2 linked regions of the Homo sapiens genome follow. The protein of the gene in region 1 interacts with the protein of each later gene in a pairwise test. Each region holds a gene or a part of one and is shown on either strand. Other genes may lie near its edges.

Region 1 (12,394 bases):
ACTTAATTAAAACTCTCCCAATAACTGAATCAGGTGTGGGTGTTTACATTTAAATTAATTAAAACTAAATAAGGCCAGGCACGAGGGTTCACACCTGTAATCCCAGCACTTTGGGAGGCCAAGGTGGGCAGATCACTTGAGGTCAGGAGTTCGAGACCAGCCTGGCCAACATGGCGAAACCCCGTCTCTACTAAAAGTACAAAAAAATTAGCCAGGTGTGGTTGCGTGTGCCTGTATTTCCAGCTACTCGGGAGGCTGAGGCAGGAGAATCACTTGAATCCAGGAGGTGGAGGTTGCAGTGAGTCGAGATTATACCACCGCACTCCAACCTGGGCGACAGGGCAAGACTCCATCTAAAAAAAAAAAAAAAAAACCTAAATAAAATTTAAAAGCTAGTCCCTTGACCACACCTGCCCACTATGGCCTGCACAATTAGATCTTAATTGATTTCAGTCTGCTCCAGGCCCACTGCCCCTGTCCCCATCTGCCTGGCAAGAAATGTCACAGCTACTTTGGGGTCCCATCCATCCTCCTTCTTCTGTAGAGTGATGTCTGATGACTCAGCTTGGTTGCTGCTAGAAAAATGGGGGATGCCCAGGCCCTTGGTTAATGAGGCCACCATCATAACTTCTGCTCCTTTGGTTTTTGTGGGGTTTTGGGGTGATATTTTTTTTTTTTTTTGGTGAGTTTGTGTGTGAGACAGTCTCACTCTGTCGCTAGGCTGGAGTGCAGTGGCGTGATCTTGGCTTACTGCAATCTCCACCTCCTGGGTTCAAGTGATTCTCGTGCCTCAGCCTCCCAAGTAGCTGAGATTACAGGCACGCACCACCAAGCCCGGCTAATTTTTTGTACTTTTAATAAAGACGGGGTTTCAACATGTTGGCCAGGCTGGTCTCAAACTCCTGACCTCAGGTGATCTACCCGCCTTGGCCTCCCAAAGTGCTAGGATTACAGGCATGAGCCACCATGCCCAGCCTTGTTTGTTTTTGCTCTCACAGGCTGGAGTGCAGTGGTGTGATCTTGGCTCACGGCAGCCTTGAACTCCTGGGCTCAAGCGATCCTCCTCCTGCCTCAGCCTCCTGAGTAGCTGGGACGACAGGTGTGCACCACTATGCCTGGCTAATTTATTTTTAGTAGTGACGGGGTCTTGCTATGTTGCCTAGGCTGGCCTCGAACCCCTGAGCTCAAGTGATCCATCTGCCTCAGCCTCCCAAAGTGCTGGGATTACAGGCGTTAGCCACTGTGCCCAGCCCTCCTTTATTATTTACTGGGGTTCTTCTACTTGCTGCTGCAGAGTGGCTAGAAGATCCTCCCCAGAGTGGTCCCCCCAGCCCACAGCCATCCTCCCATCTTGCTGGCAAACAGGCTGTGTTCTCTCTGCCTCCCTGCACCTCCCTCATGCTGGAGTGAGCTCCATCTTTCCTTCTCCCAAAGTCCGTCTCTCCATCCTCCTCCCCACTTCTGGAGGAGATCCCAGGATTGCACCATTCAGTCCCAGCCTCTCTCCTCTTGAGACCGGAGCAGGAAAAGGAGCCACTCACACCAGGACTTTTGAGTTTTCTTCCTACTGAATATCCTATCGTCCATACTAAGGAAGGAAAAGACTTTTCTTGTGTAATACAATCTGCCCCAAGGTAGCCTTATGTTATTGAATAAAAGGCAAGGATGGGCCGGGTGTGGTGGTGTGTGCCTGTAATCCCCACTATTCGGGAGGCTGAGGCAGGGGAATTGCTTGAACCTGGGAGGAGTAGGTTGCAGTGAACCGAGATCCCACCACTGGACTCCAGCCTGGGCGACAGAGCGAGACTCCATCTCAAAAAAAAAAAAAAAAAAAAAAAAAGCAAGAGTGATGCCTTCTTCCACCCTTGAGGTTTGTTCAAATCCAGCCGACAGGAGTTCCCTGAGGTTACTGAGGAAAACTCAGGGGTCAGTTCCCTAAGGGCTGCTCTGGGCACCTCAGCAGAGATGGCTGGGGCTGCCTCGGGGCCTTAGTGCAGCGGCACCACTGCATCCAGAGATTCATGCCTCTTGTGGCTCAGCCAGCCCCCAGGGGGATGGGAGGTAGAAGGGGCTTGTTCTTCCAGTTATACAGTAAGAGCGGGCTCTCTCGGTGGGCGGGTGGCCCCGTCTGTGGCCGCATTCCCTCCCCTCCCCAGCAATACTCCCTGGCTTCTCTGGCTGAGGCTGCATCTCATCCGCAGGTGGGGGTGAACTCAGATGACTCAGATGATGGATAGTGGGCCAGGGTGGGCCCCCATGACCTGTGTATCTACAGGAAGGCCCACCTGTCCTTTGGCTTCAGCTTCTGTTTCCTGACTTATAGAGAGAGGTGGCATAACAGCTCAAGATATGGGCTCTGGGGTCAGGCAGCCCATGTGCATGGCTGCTTTGCTGTGTGATCTTCAATAAGTAGCTTGCCCTCTCTGTGCGTTCATTTCCTCTTTCATCACATTGGGAATAATGATGAGTACCTCAGGGAGTTATGAAAATTAAAACTAGTTAACTTGTATAAAATTGTTACCATGACAACTAGAAGAGAGGTGATAGATAAATGTTAGATATTTTATCATTATTATTATTACTTGTTTGTTTTCTGAGACAGAGTTTCACTCTTGTTACCTAGGCTGGAGTGCAATGGCGCGATCTCGACTCACTGCAACCTCTGCCTCCCGGGTTCAAGTAATTCTCCTGCCTCAGCCTCCCAAGTTGCTGGGATTACAGGGGCCCACCACCACGCCCAGGTAATTTTTGTATTTTTAGTAGAGATGGGGTTTTGCCATGTTGGCCAGGCTGGTCTCGAACTCCTGACCTCAGATGATCCACCCGCCTCAGCCTCCCAAAGTGCTGGGATTGCAGGCGTGAGCCACCGCGCCCAACCTGATATTTTATTATTTTTAAAGTGATGATTATTCCTAATTCCTGAGACGTGTCTCTCTTTCAGCGTCTTCCTATCTTTTTGGCCACATCTCTCAGTGTGTTCCCAGCTCTCTCCTACTCTCCATCTACCCACTTCTGTCTGTTCTTCTCTTTTGGCCTCAGTCTTTCTGTGACCTTGGTAAACTACTTACCCTCTCTGTGCCTCAGTTTCTCCATCTGTCAAACAAAGTTCATAGCAGCATCTACTTCTTAGATTTTTTTGAGGAATACATTTGTTATTGCATTTAAAATACTTAGAAGAGGGCCAGACATAAGGTAAGTTCTTGACCTCCTTACAATTAATTTAACATATTCTAAAGGTTAATTAATAGTAAGCTACCATTGTTGTCTGTTGTTATTTTCTCTCTCCGTCAGCCTTCATCTCTCCCTCTCCTGTCTGTCTCTCTCTATTTTTGTATCTCCCTTTATCCATCCACTCAACACATCTGCAGTGAATAGTTTTTATCAGTGAACATAACAGACACCAGCCCTGTCCCCAAGGGGCTCCCACACTAATGAAAGAAACAGCTACTAGAAAAATAAACACACAAGACGGGCGCGGTGGCTCTCGCCTGTAATCCCAGCACTTTGGGAGGCCAAGGTGGGCGGATCACCTGAAGTCAGGAGTTTGAGACCAGCCTAGCCAACATGGTGAAACCCCATCTCTACTAAAAATACAAAAATTAGCCAGAATTGGTGGCAGGCACCTATAATCCCAGTTACTGGGGAGGCTGAGGCAGGAGAATCGCTTGAACCCGGGGGGCGGAGGTTGCAGTGAGCAGAGATCGCACCACTCTACTCCAGCCTGGGTAACACAGTGAGACTCCATCTCAAAGAAACAAACAAACAAACAAAAAAGAAAAAAAAAGAAAAAGAAACACATAATAATACGTGTATACATTGTACCAAATTCTCTAAAGGAGCATGTAGGATGCTATAAGATGAAAAAACAAATAGGGGAGTGAAGACCCTGAATCAGACTAGGGGAGGGCTCAGGGAAGGGCTCTGAAGAAGTAACACTTGAGTTGAGACACAATGAAGAGAGCGAAGGGAGAAGTGTTGGAAGCGCATGGAAAACAAAGACAGAGCAACATGAGAGAAGACAGGAGGAAAGTGGAGACAGAGAAAGATAGACAGAGACAAAGGTGCAGAGCCACAGACAGAGAGACAGAGACAGAGATGGGAGGAGAGAGACACAGAGAAAGATGGACAGAGACAGGTGCGGAGACACAGACAGAGAGACAGAGACAGAGATGGGAGGAGAGAGACACAGAGAAAGATGGACAGACACACAGGTGCGGAGACACAGACAGAGAGACAGAGACAGAGATGGGAGGAGAGAGAGACACAGAGAAAGATGGACAGAGACATGTGCGAAGCCACAGACAGAGAGACAGAGACAGAGATGGGAGGAGAGAGAGAGACACAGAGAAAGATGGACAGAGACACAGGTGCGGAGACACAGACAGAGAGACAGAGACAGAGATGGGAGGAGAGAGACACAGAGAAAGATGGACAGACACACAGGTGCGGAGACACAGACAGAGAGACAGAGACAGAGATGGGAGGAGAGAGACACAGAGAAAGATGGACAGACACAGGTGCAGAGACAGACAGAGAGACAGAGACAGAGATGGGAGGAGAGAGACACAGAGAAAGATGGACAGACAGGTGCGGAGACAGACAGAGAGACAGAGACAGAGATGGGAGGAGAGAGAGACAGAGAAAGATGGACAGACACACAGGTGCGGAGACACAGACAGAGAGACAGAGACAGAGATGGGAGGAGAGAGAGACACAGAGAAAGATGGACAGAGACAGGTGCGAAGCCACAGACAGAGAGACAGAGACAGAGATGGGAGGAGAGAGAGACACAGAGAAAGATGGACAGAGACACAGGTGCGGAGACACAGACAGAGAGACAGAGACAGAGATGGGAGGAGAGAGAGACACAGAGAAAGATGGACAGACACACAGGTGCGGAGACACAGACAGAGAGACAGAGACAGAGATGGGAGGAGAGAGACACAGAGAAAGATGGACAGACACAGGTGCAGAGACAGACAGAGAGACAGAGACAGAGATGGGAGGAGAGAGACACAGAGAAAGATGGACAGACAGGTGCGGAGACAGACAGAGAGACAGAGACAGAGATGGGAGGAGAGAGACACAGAGAAAGATGGACAGAGACAGGTGCGGAGCCACAGACAGAGACAGAGATGGGAGGAGAGAGACACAGAGAAAGATGGACAGACACAGGTGCAGAGACACAGACAGAGAGAGAAGGCAAGGTGAGACAGAGACAGGAGGAAAGAGAGACACACAGGGGCAGACAGAGACAGACAGAGATCAGAGGGTCACAGACAGAGGTCAGAGGGAGAGCGAGAGAGAAGGGATCAGAGAGAGAAAGGGACAGGGACAGGGAAAAGAGAGACAGAGACAGAAACCTGCCAGGGCTTCCTGTTCTGTGGTCCCAGCCTATGTCCCGTCCTGCCCAGAGTTATCTGGGGGCGCACGGGCCCAGGACAGAGTTGGGGGAGGGTCTCACTTGGGATGCTTCCAGTCTGGCAGGTGAGAGAAACAGAGACAAGGGGGAGAGAGACAGAGATGGGACCAGAGAGGCAGAGGAAAAGAGAGCCAGAGAGAAAGAGAGACAGACACACGGGGTGGGCTGTGGGGGAAAGAAGTAAGGAAGGAGAAGGAAAGAGTGTTAGAGACCCAGGAGAGACAGAGAGACACAGAGACATTCCTGCCTCGTCGCGGTCACCTGCGGGCACTATCCCTCACCCGCGCCGGCTCCGCGGTCTACACCCACCCACTCCTTGGATGATCTCACCCGGCCTCGTGGCTGTAAACACCACCTCTCCCCTGATGAGTCCCCGCTGTTTCTCGGCAGTCCTGACCTCGGCCTGCCCCTCCGTGCACCCTCCGCGGTCTACGGCACCCTCTCACCCCCCACCCCCCTTCCCGCACCTATGCGTCTCCACAAGATCCGTAGAGCGCAAGCCAGCAGACCAAGCCTCCACGCCATCCTTGGCCCCTCTGCTCCTGGCCCCCCACTTTCCATCCATCGGGCAGTAACTTGGCTCCACATGCAGAGGGGACCCCGTGTCCATTCACCTCTCTTCTCCCTTGACCCCGTCACCTCCCACCTGGGCTGTTGCCACTGCCCCCCGCCCCGCCCCCACCATCACTCTCCAAGCTGGAAGTTTTTAAAAAGTAAATAAGATTATGTCACTCCATCCTCGTGCTTAAAATCCATTGCACTTAAGTAAAACCCAAGCTCCTTAATCCTGGTACGTAAACTCCTGCAGGCCCGCCCGGTTCCCGGTCTGCGCTCCTACCCGCCCTGCCCTCCTACCCGCCCTGCCCTCCTCTGGCTGGAGCCAAGTTCTCCCCTGCACCCCGCAACCGCCCCTGCTGCGGCGACCCTCCTCCTCCTCTTCCCTGGGATCTCAGCTTAAATGTTCCCCTTCTCTGAGTCTCCCCGACCACCACCTTATATGCTGGTCCCTGCAGTTTTCCTTTATGGTCTGTGCCCCCGGGTAGGACGCGATCCCCAGTGACGAGGACTTTGCTGGTTCCTCCTGTGGCCCCAGCACCTGCCGCAGAGCTCGGAGTGTGGTAGGCACTCAGCTGCTTTTCACTGAGCGAAGACTTTTTAGTTCTCCCGCTCACCGAGAGCCTACAATGTGCCTGGCACTGTGTGCCTTTCCCTGAATTACCTCTTTGAATCCACTTGGGAAATGGGGCATAATGGTCACTCCAGTTTTACAGTTGGAAAAACAGGCTCACAGGGGTGCAGTCACTTGCCCAAGGTTCCAAAAATAGTTCGTGATGTAGGCTGGATACGAACCTGGGGAAATTTGCTGGAGAAGCACAGAAAGAGAGGGATGAAGGAGGAGGGGAGAGAGAGAGAGAGATTTAATTTAAAAAGAGAAAGAACATGAGAGAGAACAGGAGAGAATGAGAGGAAATGAAAGAAAACACGAGAAAAATAATGAGAGAGAGAATGAGAGAAAGAAAGAAGAAGAGAAAGAGAAAATGAGAGATACAGGCAAGAGAGAGGTATCTCATGAGAGAGAATAAGAACATGAAAAGAGAAAGAATGAGAGAGAGAGAGAGAAAGAAAAAGGAGAGTGGAGTCTAGGATCTGGGCAGGGGTCTCCTCCCTGGGTCCCTAGACCCTGCTGCCAGCCCCTTCTGGGCCCCCAACCACTGCCTGGTCAGAGTTGAGGCAGCCTGAGAGAGTTGAGCTGGAAGTTTGCAGCACCTGACCCCTGGAACACATCCCCTGGGGGCAGGCCAGCCCAGGCTGAGGATGCTTATAAGCCCCAAGGAGGCCCCTGCGGGAGGCAGCAGGCTGGAGCTCAGCCCAGCAGTGGAATCCAGGAGCCCAGAGGTGGCCGGGTAAGAGGCCTGGTGGTCCCCCACTAAAAGCCTGCAGTGTTCATGATCCAACTCTCCCTACAGCTCCATGTCGCTGGATTCTCAGCCTCTGTGCCTTCTGTCTCCACATCTCTCTAGACAGATCTCTCACTGTCTCTAGTTAGGAGTCACTGTCTCTAGTTAGGGGTCTCTCTGTCTCTCTGAATCTATATCTCCATGTCTAACTCTCAGACTGTCTCTGAGGATATCTCTCAAGCACTCTGTCTCTCCGGCTCTGATTCTCTGTGTGTCTTCCCTCCATGCTTGTTTGTGGGTGGCTAGACACCATCTCTCCCCATTCACAGATGGCTAGATGCTTTCTCTAAACTTTCCTTTCTACCTAGTTCTCTCTCTCTCTCTCTTTTCCCATCTCTCTCTCTCTTTTTCTCTCTCAGTCTCTAAATCTGTCTCTCTAGGTTCTGGGTCCATGGATGGGAGAGGGGGTAGATGGTCTAGGCTCTTGCCTACCTAATAACGTCCCAGAGGGAAGAAAGGGAGGGACAAAGAGAGGGATGGAGAGACTTGGGCTGAAGATCCCCAGACACGGCTAAGTCTCAGTCCTCATCCCCAGGTGCTGACGTGATGGCCACAGCAGGAAATCCCTGGGGCTGGTTCCTGGGGTACCTCATCCTTGGTGTCGCAGGTATCTGAGTATGCGTGTGTGTGTCTGTCCGTGCTTGGGGGCACAGTGTTTGTTAATGTTCAGGTGTGACTCAGTGTCCTCTTGCTTGTGACTGCAAAGCTGCCTGTGAGACGGTACCGTGTTATCCGTCCCCCATGGCTGTGCCCCTGCAACTCCTTGTATCGTGGTAAATTTGTGTGTGGCAGTGTGCCTGGGTGTGTGGTTGTACCTGTGAGACTCTGACAGTTTGTGCCTCTGAATATCTGGTGGAGTGACAACAGTGTAATGATGATATGGGGACAGGGGAAGCCGAGGGTGCAGGAGATTGTGCTTCCTGGGGCGTGATCCATTGCTGGGAATCTGTGCCTGCTTCCTGGGTCTTCAGTCCTGAGATCCCCCTCTCCCATCCCCAAGGAACTCACCTCACAGGACTATAAAACGGTGTTTTGGTGTGCATGGGCTTGTGGCTTGGTGTGACTGTGGGCAAGGCTGGGAGAGGATAGGAGTGACTCGGCGCAGGACCGACTCTTTGAGCATCAGTCTGCGCAGACAAGTGACCCGATCCTTGCTCCCAGCAACAACTCCACCCCCTGAGCTTTAATTCACCCCGAAGGACCCGATCCTACTGCTATGAGCCTAGACTCCTCTGTTGAACCCCTCCTGACCGTGGCTTTGCACCGCGATGGCACCAGTCTCACCTCCAGAGCTCACCCCAGAGCCCTGACTCCGCCCCAGAAGCCCTGGTCCCACCTTCTGAGACTGCCTCTAGCCATAACCCAGCTCTTGAAGCCTTGATGGCGCCCCTGCGCTGTAACCCCAACCCTAGGAGCACTGATCCCGCCTTCTCAGCCCACCCCCATGCCCTGACTCTCCTCCCAGGAGCCCTGACTACCCTGAATCCCTGACCAGGCTCCTGCACCGTGATCACCGCCCCTGGGAGCCCTAGGCCTATATCCTGGACCAGCCCCTGAAGCTCCGATCATGACCCCTGCACCATAACCCCACCCCCAGGAGCCCTGGGTCCGCCCCCTGGGCCCGCCCCCAGCCCTGACTCGGCCCCCCAAGAGTCCTGACTGCTCCTGAAGCCCTGACCACGCCCCTGCTCGGTAACCCCTCCCCCAAGAGCCCTGGGCCCGCCTCCTGAGCCCGTTCCCAGCCCTGACTCCGCCCCGAGGAGCCCTGACTGCTCCTGAACCTCTGACCACGCCCCTGCTCGGTAAGCCCACCCCCAGGAACCCTGGGCCCGCCTCCTGGTCCCGATCCCATCCCTGACTCCGCCCTCAGGATCGCTCGTCTCTGGTAGCTGCAGCCAAATCATAAACGGCGAGGACTGCAGCCCGCACTCGCAGCCCTGGCAGGCGGCACTGGTCATGGAAAACGAATTGTTCTGCTCGGGCGTCCTGGTGCATCCGCAGTGGGTGCTGTCAGCCGCACACTGTTTCCAGAAGTGAGTGCAGAGGTAGGGGGAGTGGGCAGGGCCTGGGTCCGGGGGCGGGGCCTAATATCAGGCTCATCTTGGGGTGCTCAGGGGGAAACAGCGGTGAAGGCTCTGGGAGGAGGACGGAATGAGCCTGGATCCGGGGAGCCCCAGAGGGAAGGGCTGGGAGGCGGGAATCTTGCTTCGGAAGGACTCAGAGAGTCCTGACTTGAAATCTCAGCCCAGTGCTGAGTCTCTAGTGAACTAAGGCAAGTTCTTGTCCCTGAATTTTTGTGAATGAGGATTTGAGACCATGGTTAAGTAGCTCTTAGGGTGTTTAGCGAAGAGGGTGGGGTTGGGGTTAGGAGATGGGGATGGGAATGGGGTTGAAGATGAGAATGGAGGTAAGGATGTAGTTGCCACAAAACTGACCTGCCCTCCGTGGCCCACAGCTCCTACACCATCGGGCTGGGCCTGCACAGTCTTGAGGCCGACCAAGAGCCAGGGAGCCAGATGGTGGAGGCCAGCCTCTCCGTACGGCACCCAGAGTACAACAGACCCTTGCTCGCTAACGACCTCATGCTCATCAAGTTGGACGAATCCGTGTCCGAGTCTGACACCATCCGGAGCATCAGCATTGCTTCGCAGTGCCCTACCGCGGGGAACTCTTGCCTCGTTTCTGGCTGGGGTCTGCTGGCGAACGGTGAGCTCACGGGTGTGTGTCTGCCCTCTTCAAGGAGGTCCTCTGCCCAGTCGCGGGGGCTGACCCAGAGCTCTGCGTCCCAGGCAGAATGCCTACCGTGCTGCAGTGCGTGAACGTGTCGGTGGTGTCTGAGGAGGTCTGCAGTAAGCTCTATGACCCGCTGTACCACCCCAGCATGTTCTGCGCCGGCGGAGGGCAAGACCAGAAGGACTCCTGCAACGTGAGAGAGGGGAAAGGGGAGGGCAGGCGACTCAGGGAAGGGTGGAGAAGGGGGAGACAGAGACACACAGGGCCGCATGGCGAGATGCAGAGATGGAGAGACACACAGGGAGACAGTGACAACTAGAGAGAGAAACTGAGAGAAACAGAGAAATAAACACAGGAATAAAGAGAAGCAAAGGAAGAGAGAAACAGAAACAGACATGGGGAGGCAGAAACACACACACATAGAAATGCAGTTGACCTTCCAACAGCATGGGGCCTGAGGGCGGTGACCTCCACCCAACAGAAAATCCTCTTATAACTTTTGACTCCCCAAAAACCTGACTAGAAATAGCCTACTGTTGACGGGGAGCCTTACCAATAACATAAATAGTCGATTTATGCATACGTTTTATGCATTCATGATATACCTTTGTTGGAATTTTTTGATATTTCTAAGCTACACAGTTCGTCTGTGAATTTTTTTAAATTGTTGCAACTCTCCTAAAATTTTTCTAATGTGTTTATTGAAAAAATCCAAGTATAAGTGGACTTGTGCAGTTCAAACCAGGGTTGTTCAAGGGTCAACTGTGTACCCAGAGGGAAACAGTGACACAGATTCATAGAGGTGAAACACGAAGAGAAACAGGAAAAATCAAGACTCTACAAAGAGGCTGGGCAGGGTGGCTCATGCCTGTAATCCCAGCACTTTGGGAGGCGAGGCAGGCAGATCACTTGAGGTAAGGAGTTCAAGACCAGCCTGGCCAAAATGGTGAAATCCTGTCTGTACTAAAAATACAAAAGTTAGCTGGATATGGTGGCAGGCGCCTGTAATCCCAGCTACTTGGGAGGCTGAGGCAGAAGAATTGCTTGAATATGGGAGGCAGAGGTTGAAGTGAGTTGAGATCACACCACTATACTCCAGCTGGGGCAACAGAGTAAGACTCTGTCTCAAAAAAAAAAAAAAAAAAAAGACTTTACAAAGAGATGCAGAGACACTGAGACAGATAAACAAGCCACAAAGGAGACAAAGGAGAGACAGACAAACAGAAACAGACAGACCACAAGCCCAAGAGAAGCAGCCAGCATTCAGGACATAGGACATCGGGAAGCAGGATTAGATGAAGTCAGGGATCTGGAATGGGACTTCCAACAGATATGTTGCTGGGCTATGTTGTTATTGATGATGGTTCTGTCTTTGTTTCTCAGTCTCATTTAGTTCCTTTCTGAGCCCACATCCATTTCCACCTCTCTGTGTTTTGAATTCTGACTCTCCCTCTCTTCACAACAGGGTGACTCTGGGGGGCCCCTGATCTGCAACGGGTACTTGCAGGGCCTTGTGTCTTTCGGAAAAGCCCCGTGTGGCCAAGTTGGCGTGCCAGGTGTCTACACCAACCTCTGCAAATTCACTGAGTGGATAGAGAAAACCGTCCAGGCCAGTTAACTCTGGGGACTGGGAACCCATGAAATTGACCCCCAAATACATCCTGCGGAAGGAATTCAGGAATATCTGTTCCCAGCCCCTCCTCCCTCAGGCCCAGGAGTCCAGGCCCCCAGCCCCTCCTCCCTCAAACCAAGGGTACAGATCCCCAGCCCCTCCTCCCTCAGACCCAGGAGTCCAGACCCCCCAGCCCCTCCTCCCTCAGACCCAGGAGTCCAGCCCCTCCTCCCTCAGACCCAGGAGTCCAGACCCCCCAGCCCCTCCTCCCTCAGACCCAGGAGTCCAGCCCCTCCTCCCTCAGACCCAGGAGTCCAGACCCCCCAGCCCCTCCTCCCTCAGACCCAGGGGTCCAGGCCCCCAACCCCTCCTCCCTCAGACTCAGAGGTCCAGGCCCCCAACCCCTCCTTCCCCAGACCCAGAGGTCCAGGTCCCAGCCCCTCCTCCCTCAGACCCAGCGGTCCAATGCCACCTAGACTCTCCCTGTACACAGTGCCCCCTTGTGGCACGTTGACCCAACCTTACCAGTTGGTTTTTCATTTTTTGTCCCTTTCCCCTAGATCCAGAAATAAAGTCTAAGAGAAGCGCAGGTTCTGTTTGTAGTGTCCTCCTTGCTTCCCCTTCCATTCAAGAGATTCCAGCAAATGGCTTTCCCTCCATGGGTCGCAT
Region 2 (12,378 bases), on another chromosome or scaffold:
AGCCTCCCAAGTAGCTGGGACTACAGGTGCCCACCACCACGCCCGGCTAATTTTTTGTGTTTTTAGTAGAGACGGGGTTTCACCGTGTTAGCCAGGACGATCTCGATCTCCTGACCTCGTGATCCACCTGCCTCAGCCTCCAAAAGTGCTGGGATTACAGGTGTGAGCCACCGCGCCAGGCCAGGTCAGTTTTTTTTTTTTTAAGTCTACCTGTTACAGATATATATTATAATATTTACAGCTGAAATTATATGGCTAAGATTTGCTTTTAGAAACTTCAGCAATCCGGCTGGGAGTGGTGGCTCATGCCTGTAATCCCAGCACTTTGGGAGGCTGAGGCAGGCAGATCACGAGGTCAGGAGATCGAGACCATCCTCGCTAACACGGTGAAACCCCGTCTCTACTAAAAATATAAAAAATTAGACGGGCGTGGTGGCGGGCACCTGTAGTCCCAGCTACTCAGGAGGCTGAGGCAGGAGAATGGTGTGAACCCAGGAGGTGGAGCTTGCAGTGAGCCGAGATAGCGCCACTGCACTCCAGCCTGGGTGACAAAGCAAGACTCTGTCTCAAAAAAAAAAAAAACAAACAAAAAAAAAACAAACTTTAGCAATCTCTGGTTGTCTAGCGGTTAGGAATAAAAGTTGAAGAAAAAAAAAACCCAGCAAAACAACAAACTAGGACAATGAAATACAATTGACTAAGATAGTCATTGAAGCAGGATGCCAGGTACACTGGGGATTCACTCATTATACTGTTCTCTCTACTTGCATGTATGTTTGAAATATTCCGCTGGGCACAGTGACTCACGACTCTAATCCCAGTACTTTGGGAGGCCGAGGCAAGTGGATCACAAGTCAGGAGCTCAAGACCAGCCTGGCCAATATGGTGAAACCCCATCTTTACTAAAAATACAAAAATTAGCTGGGCATGGTGGCATGTGCCTGTAGTCCCAGCTACTCGGGAGGCTGAGGCAGAAGAATCGCTTGAACCGGGAGGCCGAGGTTGCAATGAGCTGAGATAGCACCACTGCACTCCAGCCTGGGTGACAGAGCAAGACTCAGTCTTAAAAAAAAAAAAAAAAAAAGAAAAAGAAATATTCCATAATACAAAATAATATGACTGGGTGCAGTGGCTCATGCCTGTAATCCCAACACTTTGGGAGGCCGAGGTGGGCAGATCACAAGGTCAGGAGTTCGAGACCAGCCTGGCCAACGTGATGAAACCCTGTCTCTGCTAAAAATACAAAAATTAGCTGGGCATGGTGGCATGAGCCTGTAATCCTAGCTACTCAGGAGGCTGAGTCAGGAGAATCGCTTGAGCCTGGGAGGCAGAGGTTGCAGTGAGCTGAGATCGTGCCACTGCACTCCAGCCTGGACAACAGAGCGAGACTCTGTCTCAATAAATAAATATGTACATACATACATACACATATAAAATAAGAAAATAGAGCCAGAAAACCCTCACTGACCAGGCTGCAGTTAAAGAGGGTCAAATAGAGAAAGACAGCCAGCCAGATACAAGGCATTAACACACATGCACATACAGGCACACACACAAGCATACATACATACACGCACATGCATACACACACATATACATACAGACGCACACACGCATACACACAGGCACACACACATACACACACACATACACACGTGTCCATACACACACAAAACTCTTCCACAGCCATCTTTAGGTGAAATTTTGAAGATGAAAGTTTTTCTTCCATGTTTGGACCCATCTGCCCTTTCAGAAACCGCAACCTTATTGCTCTACTGCTTCCTAAATCTGCTTTTGGAGGGAAATCTGATCATTTGAAATATTTCCTGTGACTGAAAGTCAAAGTGTGGTCTTCTTAGGAATTTACATTTCTGTGTCATCTTTGATGGGGCAAGAAGTTGCATTGTTTCTGGCTTAGGAATTTCAGGCAGTGGGTGTTTGACAGGGACAGCAACAGTCCCCAGCACATGTGGAATTACACATATAGGTAATGTTTCTACCAGTCCCAGAGGTTTCTCTAAGGTGAGGAACATAGTCTGTGGCCTGCCCCATCCCCCCATCCCTTGAGTGGAACTTGCCCACTCTCACCTCTTTTTTTTTTTTTTTTTTTTTTTTTTTTTTGAGACAAGATCTCGCTCTGTAACCCAGGCTGGAGTGCAGTGGCACCATCTCAGCTCACTGCAGCCTCCACCTCCCGGGCTCAAGTGATCCTCCCACTTCAGTGTCCCAAGTAGCTGGGACTACAGGCATGCGCCACCACATCTGGCTAATTTTTGTATTTTTGGTAGAGACAGGGTTTCACCGTGTTGGCCAGGCCGGTCTTGAACTCCTGACCTCAGGTGATCTTCCCGCCTCAGCCTCCCAAAGTGCTGTGATTATAGGTGGGAGCCATCACGCCTGGGCAACTCTTATCTCTTGAGACAGTAGTTGGGAAAGAACAGGTCTTTGGTTATATGACCAGTGAGACTGTCATGATCCTGCAGCTCACCATGGTTTCCTCTTGTTTCCCCCACTCTAGGGGTGGGGCAGAAGGCCTTAACTCTGAAAAAGCTGAAACAGCTGCTTCTTCAGAGTGCCGGAAGTTGGTAGCAGAGTGCCCTGCTTCTGTGGACAATGGTTTTTATCTCCAGGTTTGTCTTCATCTTCTCTGGATCCTTGGCCTCCTTGAACAGTTCTGGGTCATAAAAGGCTGAGAGTGGGCAGAGAGTTATTTTACTAGATTAGTGAGATGCTGTGCCCAACCTAGTCCCATCCATAATCAGGGGCTGCCGCTGGCCCTTCCTCTCACTCAGTCTTCCTCCACCCTTGCGGCCCCTTCTTACTCCTCTGGAATAGAGTATAGCTGCTTCTGGTTCTGTTCTAAGGACAGGAACTCCTGGGACAGCCACTCCCGCATTAGGTCAAAAACATTTCCTGTTGATTTTATTAGTTTCCTTCCAAACAATGCATTTATGGAAGAAGAAGAGCTTTTGCAGGCATGCATTTGCACAGGCAGCCAACCTCCTCCAGTCACACACAGACACACACACACCTCCACACCCACACGCACACACTTTCTTCCCATCCGCCCACAAAGCATCAGTCACATTTAGAATTTGCACAAATGCACACCCTCCCTCATACATCACAATGCACACCCTCTCATCCACCTACATGTCTCTTCCACAAAATCACACCTGCTCACATACCCTTAGAAGCACATTCCTGTACTGTGCCCAGAGAGAGAAAGGTGGGGGAGATAAGCAAGGAGAATGGGTTAGAAGGGCTCAGGAGGTCAAACCTCTGTAGGAGCTGAAAAGTCAGAAGACCAGGACCCCCCACTCCTCTCTGCCCTTTTTTTTTCTTTCTTTCTTTTTTTTTTGAGATGGAGTCATGCTCTGTCGCCCAGGCTGGAGTGCAATGGCGCAATCTCGGCTCACTGCAACCTCCGTCTCCCAGGTTCAAGTGGTTCTCCTGCCTCAGCCTCCTCAGTAAGTAGCTGGGATTACAGGCAGCCGCCACCACATCCAGCTAATTTTTGTATTTTTAGTAGAGATGAGGTTTCACCATGTTGGCCAGGCTGGTATCGAACTCCTGACCTCATGATCCGCCTGCCTAGGCCTCCCAAAGTGCTGGGATTACAGGTGTGAGTCACTGCTCCCGGCCTCCTCTCTGCCCCTGTAAGTAGAAATACTACGGCTGGGCAAGGTGGCTCATGCCTGTAATCCCAGCACTTTGGGAGGCGAAGGTTGCAGTGAGCCGAGATCACGCCATTGCACTCCAGCCTGGGTGACAAAGCGGGACTCCGTCTCAAAAAAAAAAAAAAAAAAAGAAATACTATGAATTGAGAGAGATTTAGAATTAGGGGTAGGGGAAGCAGGAACTCAGGGCCCCCTGTCCCACACAGAAAGTGTGCTGCCTCTGTGACAGTGATGTATCTCAGGCTGGTGGCTGAGGTGGGAAGTTTGTCAAGGCTGTAAGTGGCATCCATCACATGTCCGAGAAGCCCATTTTGACCAGTAGAAAAGGATGGCCTTTAGGGTGGGATTCCCTATCAGCTCAGGAAATGGTGCGGAGGGAATGAAGAGAGATAAGGAAGTAAAAGGCTGGGTTGGGCTCTGGGTCCAACATCCTCTAGAATGAATCTTACTAATGTCAGCTGGAATCAAGAGGAGGAGGCTCCCCTTCACTGGAAACTTGAAGTCCCCCTCAGAGAAAAGGCGGGAGAGAGGGCTTGGAAAAGTGACAAGTGCCCAAGAGCAGCCCAGGCAATTCTGCCTTCGGCCCCAGACTATTGTCTGCCTGCCCTGACTCAGCCCAAACTCAGAAACTGTGGATTCTGGAAAGTAACGAGACTTTTCCTTTGGGAAAGGGTCCTGAAGCTGACCCACAGTGCTCAAGAAAATTGGCAGAGAGGCCAGGCACAGTGGCTCACACCTGTAATCCCAGTATTTTGGGATGCCGAGGTGGGCGGATTACCTAAGGTCAGGAGTTTGAGACCAGCCTGGCCAACATGGTGAAACCCTGTCTGTACTAATAATACAAAAATGAGCCGAACGTGGTGGTGGGCACCTGTAATCCCAGCTACTCATGAGGCTGTGGCAGGAGAATCGCTTGAACCCATGAGGTGGAGGTTGCAGTCAGCCAAGATCGCACCATTGCACTCCAGCCTGGACGACAAGCGTGAAACTTCATCTAAAAAAAAAAAAGAAGAAGAAGAAGAAGAAAGAGAGGAAGAGGAAGAAGCAGAGAAGAATAGGAGGAGGAGGAGGGGAAGGGGAAGTGGAAGGGGAAGGGGAAGAGAGGGAGAGGAAGAAGAAGAAGAAAGAAGGAAGAAGAAGGAAGAAGGAAGAAGAACATAATTGCCAGAGAGCTCAGTGAAACAGAGACAGAGGAGACGGAAGTGAGCCACACACTCTGTGTCCTCGCCTCACCAGGAAACTACTAAAGTTCCTGGGGAAGCAAAGTAGAATTTCATAAGAACAAAATGGATGGAGAGGAGAAAACCTATGGTGGCTGTGAAGGCCCTGATGCCACGTATGTCAAATTGATATCATCTGATGGCCATGAATTTATTGTAAAAAGAGAACATGCATTAACATCAGGCACGATAAAAGCCATGTTGAGTGGCCCAGGCGTTTTATGGGTTTGGCTTTTAAATTTAGGTCTTTGGTCTTAAGTTAATTTTTGTTTATGCTGTGAGGTCAGTTTGCTGAGAACGAAACCAATGAGGTCAATTTTAGAGAGATACCTTCACATGTGCTATCGAAAGTATGCATGTATTTTACCTACAAGGTTCGCTACACTAACAGCTCCATCGAGATTCCTGAATTCCCAATTGCACCTGAAATTGTACTAGAACTGCTGATGGCTGCGAACTTCCTAGATTGTTAAATAAAATAAATTATAATAAACTGTTAACTCTTTTCAGTATGTAATACCTGTAGATCAGTTAGTAACTTTTTCATATATAGCATGTTGCCTGTATGCAGTTTAACTATATAAAGTTCATTGCAAAGCAGATTATCTTGTTTTTTTCATAGCAATCAAAGTTGAAATTTGTTTGCTACATCAACAAATTAAGAACATTTTCACAAACTGAGAAATAAACAAATATGCCAATTAAAAAAAAAAAAAGAAAGAAACAGAGACAGAGATATCTGGCCCCTGCCATCCATGTCTTGACAGTGCCTCATGAGTCTCTCCTCCTGCTGCCGCCTGGGGGCGCCCCCAGCTGGGTCTCAGGCTGCTGCCAGCACTGCTGTTGTTATCATTAGGGTAATTAATAAACAAGCACTGCTGGGGCCAAGTGGAAGAAGAGGCAGGCCCCTGCTGCTCAGGAGAATCCCTGAAAAGATCCAGTGAGCCTGCGGCAACCGGAGCTGAGTGGCTGGTCCCTCCTCTCTACCCAGGACCTCTGGAAGGGGTGTGGGGTGGGCTTCCCCCTGGAGGGAAGGGCAAGGGGAGGAGCACACTTGGTAGGCTTGGTTTGGAACCAGCTCTGCATGTGCCTAACAGGATGTCTGTGGGCAAGGCCACCCTCGTGATTACTGGTTGTGGGGCAGGCTCTGAAGCAATTATTCATTCATTTAACAGGCATCTGCCTATTTATTTATGGAAAGCCTACTGTGTGCAAGGTGGTCTACTAATAATAGCTAATGTTTGACTGGACAGTGTGACGACACAGCCAACTTTCACACCAGGTCCTGGGAAAAGGGGTAGAAGCAGGGGAAGCAACCAGGAAAAATGACAGCCCAAAAAGATACGGGCAATTAGGCTTTGGCCTGTGTAGTGTAGTGGTGGGGATATATATTAGGTAAAACCTGGGGATTACCAAGATCTTGGGAAACTCAGGACCCAAGTTGGAAAACATACGGCAATTGGGGCTGGAGAAAATGGGCATTTTTCAGGTGGGAGGGACTTGGAGATAAAGGCATGGCAATAGGACATGAATATGGGGATTTTGGGTGAATGGCTCAATGAAAGGGAGGCACGAAGGGATGCTAGCCGATCCTGTTGGGGGAGCCCCGGGTCACGGCAGTTTCGGGGAGCCAGATGGATGGGAGTGTCTAGGGGTTGAGGTGCTCTAAGTCCTGAGAGGGGGATGCTGGATTCTGGGATCAGAGTCCGAACAAGAGTTGGGGTGTGGTGGGGGCTGACAGCGGGGTTTTGAGGGAAGGCTCTGGAGGGCTGGGTTAGAAAAGATGCCGGAGCGGGTTTAGGGAAAGGAGGGGCGTGGCCGGGGAGCCCATCCTGGAGGCCAAGCCGGATCCTCAGGTTTGGCCAGGGGGCGGCTGGGGCCGGCGTGCCGGCGGGGCGCCGGCGGGGCCGCGGGGGTTTGCGGCGCTGGCTGGGATTCGCGCTCCGAGCCAGTCGCCGGGGCTCCGCGGGGGGGCGGTGCGAGCTCGGGCTGCGGGCGGGCCGGGAGGAGGCGGCGGCTCCGAGAAGAACATGAATCAGCGGCGGCGACGGCGGCGACGGCAGTGGAAGGAGCGCGGTGGCGCGGGAGCGGCCCCGGGGACCCCGCGCTGCTGACGGCGGCGACCGCGGCCGGAGGCGGGCGCGGGTCTCGGAGGCGGTCGCCTCAGCACCGCCCCACGGGCGGCCCCAGCCCCTCCCGCAGCCCTCCTCCCTCCCGCTCCCTTCCCGCCGCCTCCTCCCCGCCCTCCTCCCTCCTCGCTCGCGGGCCGGGCCCGGCATGGTGCGGCGTCGCCGCCGATGGCGCTGAGGCGGAGCATGGGGCGGCCGGGGCTCCCGCCGCTGCCGCTGCCGCCGCCACCGCGGCTCGGGCTGCTGCTGGCGGCTCTGGCTTCTCTGCTGCTCCCGGAGTCCGCCGCCGCAGGTAGGGGCTGGCACGGGAGGCGGCGGGAAGCGGGGGGCTGCGGAGGGGCGCGGCCGGGGGTCGGAGCCCGGGGCGGGCCTGGCGGGCTGGAGTCGGGGTGGGGGTCCGGAGCCGAAGGCCGAGGCTCGGAGCCGGGACAGGGCACGCTGCGGAGTGCTCGCCGCCAGATCTCCGGCCGGGCCCCCACCCCCAACTTTCTGGCGCTCGGGGCTCTTCTGGCGGGGTGGAAGAGAAGGGAGCGGGGTGTGGGCTGTGTGGTCAGCGGGGAGTGTTTGGGACTGCATTTTCCCGCCTCGATGTTCCCAGCTGTTAGCTCCCTCCTTCCCAGTACTGGGGACCCCATTCTGCCTGCCCCGCACGCGAAGGTCCGCCTCGGAAACCACACGGGCCGGGGCTGGGCACCCAAAGGCCACCCTGATACCATTTAGGTACACAGGGGCTGTGAGGGTGCCCAGTCACAAAAAACAAATGGGCACACTCGAGTTCCTGTGCCCTCAGAGCTTCCTGAAAGCAGAACCTTGGAGAGGATGGGCTGGTGCCAGGTTGCTGGTCTTTGGGAGGGGTTAGTCTTGTGTTCCCACATAGCCACTGAGGCATTTGCTGGTGACAAGAGCGTTCCATGCAGCACGGTGCTCTCCAAGTTCCCACCCCGCACCTCGGGGACTGATGGGCATATAGGGAGCGGGAGGCTGGCCCCCATCCTGTGACTGGTCCTGAGAGGGTGAAGGGAGCAGGGAAGAGCCACAGGCCAGGACAGCGGCCACCCGCTGGCATCTTCTCTTGAGACAGCATTCCTTGCCATATCAGCCTCTCAGGGAAGGGAAGGGAAACGGGGTGACGAGTATTTACAAGCCGAAAGGTGCGGACCTGATGCTCAGGGAGCCCACGACTTTGCCTAGAGTCACACAGCAAAGGGTGAGAAGAAGCAGGGCTGGATTTCAGTTATGTGGATACTTGACCTGCCCCTCTCTCTGCTTAAAAACATGCCAGGAGGCCAGGAGAGGTGCGTGTATGTGTGTGTGTGTGTGTGTGTGTGTGTGTGTGTGTGCGCGCGCGCGCGCGCGCTCGCACGCAAGTTCCAAAGAGTGGCCCCTGTTAATGTGGCAGTGGCTCAGGGGTCTTAGGCTCCCTGCTCAGGGCCCCAGCCCTCCCTTCTGCCTCCCACCTTCCTAGCACTCGCCCCTGCCCACATTCAGGTATTAATAGAGTGGATGGCTGCCAGGAAGGCTGCCATGTGTTTGATCTGACGTGGTTTTGCAGCCATATGTTCTCCACTTCAGGGGAGCACCCCCTCCTTTCCTTCTTCAGCCCTGCTCCATTTGGTAAGGTTGGGTGCAGAGGGTGCTGGCAGCAATTCAGGGTCTGGGCTGACACCTTGGGTGGAGAGCTGGCAGCCTGTTGCACTAGTTGGGTGCAGCAGTCATTCCTAGAGCAGTGCCTGCCCCAGTAGGGTAACTCCCATCGTTTCAGCCCAGCCTGCCTTCCTTTTGCTGTCTGGGCTCAGAAGGAGGACATGGGGAAGAGGTCCTTAGAGCCGGAGGGAACTTGGAGAGCTTGCCATGCCCCTTCCCTTCGCCCAGGTCCAGCGACCTTCCCTTCCACACTGTCCTACCTCTGCTTCCTTGACTTTGGCTGAGAAAGAGCCCTCTGTCTGACACAGAAGCTACCTTCTAGAAGAGAATGGGAACTGTTTACAGAGACAGAGTCCCTCTCAAGGCTGACACATGTTCCTTCCCACCCCTCAGGTCTGAAGCTCATGGGAGCCCCGGTGAAGCTGACAGTGTCTCAGGGGCAGCCGGTGAAGCTCAACTGCAGTGTGGAGGGGATGGAGGAGCCTGACATCCAGTGGGTGAAGGATGGGGCTGTGGTCCAGAACTTGGACCAGTTGTACATCCCAGTCAGCGAGCAGCACTGGATCGGCTTCCTCAGGTGCAGGCCTGTGGGGGAAGGTGTGGGCTGCCAGCCAGGGGGCAGGCTATGCTCTTTCCTTGGGGATTGGGAGCTGGGGCCCTCTCCTGATGCCCAGAGGTCTGTGGTTTTTTTATTTGGCTACCTGTGGGACCTTCCAGAAGTGGGGGCAGGCTGAACTCATCAAGTTTGCCCAGCAGAGCTGCCGCCCTTGCCCTCGGAAGCAAGCCTCGTATCCTGTTTCCACAGCCTGAAGTCAGTGGAGCGCTCTGACGCCGGCCGGTACTGGTGCCAGGTGGAGGATGGGGGTGAAACCGAGATCTCCCAGCCAGTGTGGCTCACGGTAGAAGGTGAGGAGGCAGAGCCATATGGGCGTGTTGGCCTGGAGCACGTGCTGTCTGCTGGTGACTATACCTCTGCAGCGGAGAACTCAGTAGAAGCTGGGCTGCCCCACTGCTCTGTGGGGCCTGGTTGTCCAGGCTGTAGGCCCACTCCAGATGTCGGAAGACCCTACCAGTTGGAGTTGGGTATCTGAGAACCAAGGGACCAACTGGGATCCACAACCTGTGGGGTGCAGTCTGTTTCCGTTGCTTGAGCAACAAGCTTCAAGCATCCATCTGGGACTGGACCCTGTTCTGCCAAGTGGCCTGGCCAGCAGGGGGAGGGGAGGAAGGCTCTGCAGCTGCGGGAGCTCAGAGCTGTTCAGCCCAGGAAAACAAAGTGACTAAGAAAGTAACAAAGGGCCCTGAATGGGAGCTGGGGCCTGGCAGCAGAACTCTGCTAAAGCTCTCACCCACTCCCCTGAGTTTTATGCCCCTCTCCCAGCTCTCCACCCCCAGTCTCCTCTCTTACTGCAAGAAGAGCTGTCCAAATCTGCCATGCCTAAGGGGGCAGCATGGAAGATGTGTCTAAGGTGCCAGGCATGGTGGCGTGTGCCTGTAGTCCCAGCTACTCCGGAGGCTAAGGCCAGAGGATCACTTGAGCCCCCAGGAGTTCCAGGCCAGCCTGGGCAACATAGAGAGACCTCCCCGCGACCAATCTCAAAAAAAAAAAAAAAAAAAAAAAATTCCTAAGGAGCCTGAAAAAGAGAAGCACCGCCTACCTCTCAAGCTAGATGCCTGTTCTGCTGTTGACCTAATCATAAGGGGCCTGTGGGAACCTTCTGCGTGGAGGACTTCAGATGTAAACAGACTTGTGATTTGTACAGTAGGAAGCCAAGAGGTGGCAGGGCTCACTCCTCACTCCCCTTCTCTCCTAGGTGTGCCATTTTTCACAGTGGAGCCAAAAGATCTGGCAGTGCCACCCAATGCCCCTTTCCAACTGTCTTGTGAGGCTGTGGGTCCCCCTGAACCTGTTACCATTGTCTGGTGGAGAGGAACTACGAAGATCGGGGGACCCGCTCCCTCTCCATCTGTTTTAAATGTAACAGGTGAGCAGCCTCAGAAGGGGGCTGGGAGTGGAGAAGGAGCTGGGTCCTGGAGGGCACTGAAGCTGGCAGTTTCAGCCACTGAGCTTGCGGTTGTGAGCGTCCAGAGCAAGCCCCAGTGTCTGGGGACGTGAGCTGCACCATTACTAAGCTCATTAGTCAGGTGTGCTAGGCTGGCTGGGTGGGCTGATTAGTGGTGATCCTGCTGTGTGTGCTTAAGGAGGGTGTGGGGCCACCTTTGGTTCACAGCAGTCCAGGCCATGCACAGCTGGCCCTCAGAGATGAATTGTATGAGACCAGGGGCACCCATCCCCCACCCCTCCCAAGGAAAGGAGCCAGAAACCAGCCCACGCAGAACTAGGGAGGAGTATCTGGCAGACACTGAGAAGACAAGACTCTCAGGCTGCAGAGAGGGGAGAGGAGGGAGAGAGAAGGGGTAGGGGGAGGTTAGCACAAAGATACAGGGCCTCCTCCCCTAATGGCGCTTTCCGGGAAACCTCCACACGTTTTCTCAAACAACTGTGTCTGTCCATACCTCTGCACAGTCACACCTGCACACCCACCTGGGCCCCAAGTTTCTTGGGCACATACCCTCACATGCTTGTAAGGCTTGCTTATTTGTGAAACAAAGGCTTGCTTATTTGTTTCTGGTTGAGGCTTGAATTGGGCAAAAAAGATGGGAGTCTGAGCTTGGTCTCATGTGCTGGAAGGTGCCAGGGAAATGGGCGCTGAGCTAGGTTCTCCAGCAATTTGAATCTTGACAAGAGGTGGACTATGAGACCTCTTGGAAGCAAGTGCAGGTCCTGTTCAGGAGGCGCTGAGTTGGAGCAGATTAGAGAGGAGGTTGGGTTCACTTCCTTCCAGGTGTGCGTGGTTGGGACCCTCAGGCAGGCAGCCTGATAATAAGCACTCACTGAACTCCTACTCCACACCACACTGTGCTAGGCACCACAGGGGACAGAGGGAATACAAAGGAAATAGAAGCTAAAGAACTGAGTATAACTGGGGAGACAAGACATGTGCATAAAGAGCTGAGAACTACTGCAAGGCAGAGAGTCTGCAAATAACAACCCCAAGGGGGCACAGAGCAAACAGAAGGGCTCACTCTGGTATGCGCAATAAAAGAGTGACCAGAAAAGGGGGGCAATTTGTGCTGTGTGTGGGAGATGGGATGGAGGTGGGAGGGTGGTATAACGTTTCTCAAGGGCTTATTTAGCATGCCGTGCACTTGACACACATTACCTGATTCTCACAATTCTCCCATTTGAGAGATGAGAAAACAGAGCCCTCTCCAGGCTCACCAGACTCTAGTGTCCCTGTTCATTTCACCGTACCTCACTGCCCAGCCCCTTCCTTTGGCAGGAGGGATTTAAGGATGTTCAGACCAGAGCCTGAGTATTCCCCTTTCCCAGTCCCGCACTGAGTGGGGTTGCTGCTTGGGGAGCTGACTGAGGTTTTCTGGCCCCAGGGGTGACCCAGAGCACCATGTTTTCCTGTGAAGCTCACAACCTAAAAGGCCTGGCCTCTTCTCGCACAGCCACTGTTCACCTTCAAGGTAGGAGGGCTGGCAGGGAGGAAGGGTGGATGAGGCCAGGGGCATTCCCAGCGAGCTGTCCAGCAGTTAGAATCATTCTGTGTTCCAGCTCCCCTTGTGGTCCTGCTGGGATCTAGGGAGCAAGGGGTTAATTGGCATAGCTCCCATTCCTAGTGGGAGCACCTGAGA

Evidence for each region.
Region 2: the proteins of KLK4 (region 1) and TYRO3 interact in binary tests that used the Homo sapiens proteins (3 or more experiments, as listed by UniProt).

What each region holds. Positions count from the first base shown.
Region 1 is NC_000019.10:50,906,271-50,918,664, reverse strand, and holds KLK4 (kallikrein-4 isoform 1 preproprotein), read left to right. Parts: upstream 1-7,269; 5' UTR 7,270-7,326; intron 7,327-7,915; 5' UTR 7,916-7,926; coding exon 7,927-7,987; intron 7,988-9,250; coding exon 9,251-9,413; exon of another isoform or gene 9,414-9,425; intron 9,426-9,835; coding exon 9,836-10,086; intron 10,087-10,169; coding exon 10,170-10,306; intron 10,307-11,578; coding exon 11,579-11,731; 3' UTR 11,732-12,314; downstream 12,315-12,394. UniProt on the Homo sapiens protein: Has a major role in enamel formation. Required during the maturation stage of tooth development for clearance of enamel proteins and normal structural patterning of the crystalline matrix.
Region 2 is NC_000015.10:41,552,061-41,564,438, forward strand, and holds the start of TYRO3 (tyrosine-protein kinase receptor TYRO3 isoform 1 precursor), read left to right. Parts: upstream 1-7,151; 5' UTR 7,152-7,197; coding exon 7,198-7,321; intron 7,322-7,911; exon of another isoform or gene 7,912-8,236; intron 8,237-9,066; coding exon 9,067-9,250; intron 9,251-9,478; coding exon 9,479-9,579; intron 9,580-10,487; coding exon 10,488-10,658; intron 10,659-12,123; coding exon 12,124-12,210; intron 12,211-12,378. UniProt on the Homo sapiens protein: Receptor tyrosine kinase that transduces signals from the extracellular matrix into the cytoplasm by binding to several ligands including TULP1 or GAS6. Regulates many physiological processes including cell survival, migration and differentiation.